2 separate regions of the Homo sapiens genome follow, and region 2 is linked to region 1. The links come from fine-mapping of genetic effects on gene expression. A gene starts in region 1. The other region holds a variant in brackets. All regions are shown on one strand. Distances are between the middles of the regions.

Region 1 (2,879 bases):
TCTTGCTGATAGCATCTTCAGAGATGATTTTGTTGATGAAGATGGCATTTTAAGGGTGACCAGGAAAAGCCCAAATATGTGTAGCAGGCCTAGCAGACTGCCAAGTACATATTTCCTCCAATCCCCTCTGCTTTTTAGCATCTTTTCTGAAATCTCCAGATGAACAACATTCTTCGCCCCATCTACTCTTCAGCTCCTTCAGGAGGCAAAGTCCTTTCTTAAACTGTGAAGAGTAGCAGCATAGTCTCTGCAGTGAGATTTTCTGGATCTGAAGCCCTAATCTACCACTCTCTAATTGTGTGGCTTGGAGAGATCATTTAATTTCTCTTAAGCATCAGTTTCTACATCTATAAAATGAGGGAAATAATAATATCTCTCTTATAGAATATATGGAAATATTCGAGGATAGGAAAATGCAGCAAAAAACTGCATTAAACCTGACCCAGTGTCTGACACATAGTAAGGACTCAATAAATGGCAGATACTATAGTCATTTGATTCATCATAGTAATACTGTAGAGGTGGTGGTGGTGGTGGTGGTGGTAGTAGTAGTAGTAGCAGTAGTTAAGTCATTGTGAACTCTGATACTAAGAACTGGGCTCTTGGAAATGGAGTGGGAGAACAGTAACACCAAATATATCCTGTATGCCAGAGGGTTGAAGAACAGACAGAACAGGTAGCTAAATGCAGCCTATTGAGGAATGTTTGAACTTTGGCTTTCTTTAATCATTGCCACATCTTGCTCCATAATAAGGGTAATTGTAATCCTGCTTCAAAGCTATTTCTAAGAAGAAATAGAGCCAAGGCTGGCATCCCTAACTCTACTCTCCTTTAGCCAGGCTGCTCTATCTATGGCAGTGTCCCCTACTTCCCCAGGCCAGGTTAGGAGGGAACAAGAGAGTCCACCCCAACTGCTTTAACAAGCCTGAACCGCCAGGTCAAGAGATGAAGTAATCTTCCCCCTATACGAAGACCAGAGGTGGGGATGGACAAGGTGGCCAAGGCAGCAGCTGAGGCTCAAGGAGCAGATACACTCTCAAGCCTGCTCCCTCCTGCTCCAGTTCCCAGCTCAGCAGGTGCCACTGAAGGGCTCAGTTCTTCAGTCTGCCCCTGCAGAGTGCTCTGCCCTTCCATGTTCTCTGACACCTCTTCTATTCACTCACCTAGGACAACTAAGAAAGTGGCCTCCTTGGTGAGTAGAGCTTCCACAGCCTCTCTCGGGGAAAAGGACCAGAAGCTGTTGGAGTTGGCCAAATGCTTGAAGTTGGCATAAAGTCAATTGGAACCATCACAATGAGAGTCTGTGTGATCAGCCCAAAAGGACTGCACAACTGATTCATGTTCAGTGCCAGGAAATGCAACGGGCCATTCTGGGGTTGGGTCCTCAGTTATTTTTGGCAAAGATGGGTGGTATGCAAAAGGGACTTCCTTTTTTTTTTTTTTTTTTTTTTCCAGCACAGAGCCACAGAATGCTGAGCAGTCAACAGCATTTCTTGTTCCAAGATCACCCTTCTGAGTACCTCTCTGGCTGCCAAATTGCCAGGGCCTTCACAGTTTGATTCCATTTCTCAGCTCCAAGCATTAGGTAAACCCACCAAGCAATCCTAGCCTGTGATGGCGTTTGACGTCAGCTGCTTCTTTTGGGTGGTGCTGTTTTCTGCCGGCTGTAAAGTCATCACCTCCTGGGATCAGATGTGCATTGAGGTGAGTCCAAACTGTTTGTCTTTATGCAGATTAAACTGTCTGAAAATTTTGAGATTTAGCACGCAGTCCAATCTGAGCCTTGGCATCCCAATATCTAGTGTCTTTAAAAAGGAAATAAGGTGTATATATAATTTTTTCATTATTGTGAGAAAGGAGCCAAAGAACTCTGCCAGGGGATCATCTGGTGGCATCTTAATAGGAAGCAAAGAGAATTTTTCTCCTCTTCAAACAATTCCACCCAAATAATCCCAAGTGGGTCATAAGATATTAATAGGGTCTGTGTGCACAAAGCAGACCCCTAAACCTGCCTCAACCTAGGGGAGCTGTTGGTTTAACATCCCCACTCTCACATGGCCTCTATCCCAATGAGTCCTTTGGTCTCCTCTCAGGGTGAGAATTAGTAAAGACAGCGCTGTGCCAGGTTTTCGAGCATTGAAAAGATCACTCTGAATGAGTCTGGCTCTCTCTTGGACTTGGACAGCCTTCCATCTGTTTTACTAACCCATAGGAGGAAAATCTGAGAATAGAGCCAAATTGCACCTTCTGTTTTGGACCATAGCAATATTTATCAACCTGTGGGAAGTTCTTGGAGGGGATAATGAGAGAAAAAGGAGAAGGGCCTCCGTCTCTTGCCATCCTCTAAAATGCTTCAAACTTCCTCCCACTTTCTCTGACCCCACAAGTGATCAATACCACGTGGCCTGTCAGACAAGGGCTGCATACAGGAGGAACCATGAGTCTTGGTGGCTTGGTGAGCTGCTGGTCTGGGTTGAGGTAAAAAGAAGAGTAAGAGCCAGGAATAGCCAGATGTGGAGTTGCCCTGGGGCAGGACTAGAAGGAGATCAGAGGATCAGGAAGAGCAGAGCAAAGCCAGCACTGGGGTAAGGCTCAGAGCTGGGTGAGCAGAGCCTTGTTGGTCTGGCATTAGGATGGAATCAGCAGCAGGCCAAGAGGAGGCATCATGCCAATGAGAAATGAAGGCTGGGAAGGTGTGTGTTGCTTTGCTTGGGCTGTCATAACAAATGCCACAGACTGGGCCAGGCGTGGTGGCTCACGCCTATAATCCCAGCACTTTGGGAGGCCAAGGTGGGTGTATGCCTTGAGACTGGGAGTTCGAGACCAGTCTGGGCAACATGGCAAAACCCCATCTGTACTAAAAATACAAATATTAGCTG
Region 2 (2,917 bases), 26 kb after region 1:
AGAGAGGATCCCTTGAGCCCAGGGGTTTGAGGCCAGCATGGGCAACCCATGTCTCTTTAAAAAAATGCCTTGGGCTTAAAAGAGGTAGCCCTCAGTTTATTAGGGAAATATTATACACCCAAACACATATTTAGCTACATTTCAATTTTTTAAAATCCCAAATAAGATAACACTACGTGGATGCTGAAAATACAGTACAAGAAATTGTGCCCCAGACTGGACAGACCCACAAGAGCATGTCTAATTGTTTGCCCTTTAATGACCTCATTAGTTTTACCTGGTCGAGCTCAAGGTAAATACCTTTAAAACTTCAATCTCTTGCTTTTCATTTAAAGTTTCTTTTATGTATTCGCTCTAAACTGGTTGTTCACTTAATAGCTCTTGCTATGGCCATTATTGGCTCTGTGATGTGTGTACTTAATATCCTTTGTGGGTTTTTTCTTTTATGGTGAAGACCGACTTTTCTGCATAGCATGATACCAAGTCCCATTAAAATGACCATTTCCATACTTACTTTTAAAAACTGTGAATCTTAGCAGAGTGGGTTCCTCTAAGCAGGGAAAACTACATCACGCAGGCAGTGAAAAACACTGTCATGATTCTGTCCCATTTCATCTTGCAATTTATATTGTAGTAGAATAGTGTGTGGGAGGAAGAAGGTCTCGTCTAATGGTAGAGGTTAAATGTATGGGCTGTCCAGTCAGATCGCTTGAGTTCAAGCCTCAGTCCTGCCAATCACGAGGGTTAGTCACTTAACCTCTTTCCAAGTTTTGGCTTCCTAATTTATAAAATGAAGCAACGTATAGTTCAAATGGCACGGAGATTAAATAAGAAGATGGAAATAAAGTATTTAGTGTGTTACTTGGCTTCTAGTAAATGTGCTACAAACAGTAGCGACTACTAATACTTCCTTTCTTGTTCAATTCGGTCCAGCAAATGTATTAGTCCGTTCTCACACTGCTATAAAGAACTGCTCAAGACTGGGTAATGTATAAAGGAAAGAGGTTTAATTGACTCGTAGTTCAGCATGGCTGGGGAGGCCTCAGGAAA[T/C]TGACAATCATGGCAGAAGGCAAAGGGGAAGCAAGCCACCTTCTTCACACAGCGGCAGAAAGAAGTGCTGAGCGAAGGGTGGGGAAGAGCCCCTTATAAAACCATCAGTTCTCATGAGAACAGCATGAGGGAAACTGCCCCCATGATTCAGTTACTCCACCTCGTCTCTCCCTTGACACGTGGGAATTATGGGGGTTACAATTTAAGAGGAAATTTGGGTGGAGACACAAAGCCTAACCATATCAGCAAATACTTATTGATGTCTCCGATGTGCTTTGTCCTAGAAGTAAAAAACAAGACAGAGAACCAGGGAGCTTGAAGTCTAGCAAAGAAGATACACATGTAGAAAGGTAACTCCAAAATAACGCAGTGAGTGCCATGAGGCAGATACACAGTGAAGCAAAGACAGTCCACAGGTCGGTCCAGGCCTTTCCAAAAGGCTTCCTCCAGATGTCTGAGTCCAGCACACATGCTGAGCTGGAGTTATCTAGGGTAAGGATACATTTAAGGAACTGGCCTTTACCCGAAGAATATGGGTGCTACTTAAAGGTTTAAAGCAGGGTAGTAACATGGTGTGCTTACACTTGAGCAACATCACTCTAGGGACATTGTGAAGAACAGACTAGAAGGGGTAAGAGCGAAGGCAAGAAAACCAGTTAGGAGGCTGTTGAGGTCATCTGGAGAGAGACTATGATAGAGACCAAACTAAGGCTGCCAGTAGCACAATAGTGACGGGACATGGATTGCACAGAAGAGTATATTGTGAAATCAGTGAAGCTTTTTTTTTTTTTTTTTTTTTTTTAAGATGTAAGGCAAGAAAGAAGAGTTTAGGCAGAAATCTAGGATCTGACTCGGAGAAAAGATGGGGAATACAGTGAGCTTTGAAAGAAGGGGCACCAAAATAAGCATATTTTTGGACATTTTGAGTGTGAGGTGCCTGAGCCAAGTTGAAATGCTCAGGGACCAAGGACGAACCCAGGAAACACCAGTATTTAAAGGGACAAGAGGACAAGGAAGAAATTCTCTAAAGAGAGAAAAAGAACAGGTTGAAGACAACTAGGAGAGAGGGCTGTCAGGGACAGACCGGTTCTCAAGATGGTCTACTGAAGTGATGTCTTGACAAGAGGGCTTTAGAGTCAGCTGTGTCACTGGTGACCTCTACCAGAGCGATGTTGATGGCATGGGTGACAGAGCCAGGTTTCAAAGGGGTGAAGACCCAAAAATACTAAGTGCAGACTCCTCTTGTAGGATGTCACCTGAGAAGGGACAGAGGGAAAAGGCCAGGTAAAGAAAGGGTTTTCTGAAAGGAAAGAGACAGTTGGGGAGGAAAAAGAGAATGCTGAGGCAGACTATGGTAATTGATGGAGCAAGTTCGTGAGAGAATGAGAGGAGGTGGTGGTGGTGTCACAGAGAAAGGAGAATCAAGACCCCCTGAGTGTGGGAAGATGGTGAGTGTGAGTGTAGAAGTTGGTAAGTTCTGCAGGCAAGGAAAAAGGTTGGTAGAAAAAAATAGGAAGAAGTTAAAAGAGGACTTAATCTTTTTTTTTTTTCTTTTTTTTGGAGATAGGGTCTCACTCTGTTGCCCAGGCTGGAATGCAATGGCACAATTATAGCTTGTTCACTGCAGCCTTGAACTTATGGGTTTAAGTAATTCTCCTACCTCAGCCTCCTGAGTAGTTGGGACAATAGGCGTACACCACCACACCCAGCTAACTTTTCAAGTTTTTGTAGAGATAGGGTCTATGTTGCCCAGGTTGGTCTCCAATTCCTAGCTGAAGCCATCTTCCTGCCTTAAGACTCCCAAATAGCTAGGACTACAGGTGAGCACCACTATGCCCAGCTAAAGGACTTAATGTTGAAGAATATT

Direction of the effects. Positions count from the first base shown, and alleles are read on the strand shown. Sizes are in standard deviations (SD) of each study's normalised expression.
With allele T in place of C in region 2, the expression in lymphoblastoid cells of the gene that starts at base 1,457 in region 1 is higher (small effect, 0.32 SD a copy in TwinsUK).

The links. PIP is the estimated chance that this variant, and not a neighbour inherited with it, causes the effect.
Region 2: its variant is the best candidate, but not a certain one, in a credible set for the expression of CD180 in lymphoblastoid cells (TwinsUK, PIP 0.55).

What each region holds. Positions count from the first base shown.
Region 1 is chr5:67,195,377-67,198,255 of GRCh38, reverse strand. CD180 (CD180 molecule) reads left to right here and starts at 1,457. Exons shown (of 3, transcript NM_005582.3): 1 at 1,457-1,704. The coding sequence starts at 1,615. RefSeq lists an enhancer at 2,484-2,633.
Region 2 is chr5:67,169,752-67,172,668 of GRCh38, reverse strand. No RefSeq gene overlaps it. Among named protein-coding and RNA genes, the nearest start is that of CD180, 26 kb to the left of the region's middle. The variant T/C (reference allele first, on the strand shown) is at 1,051.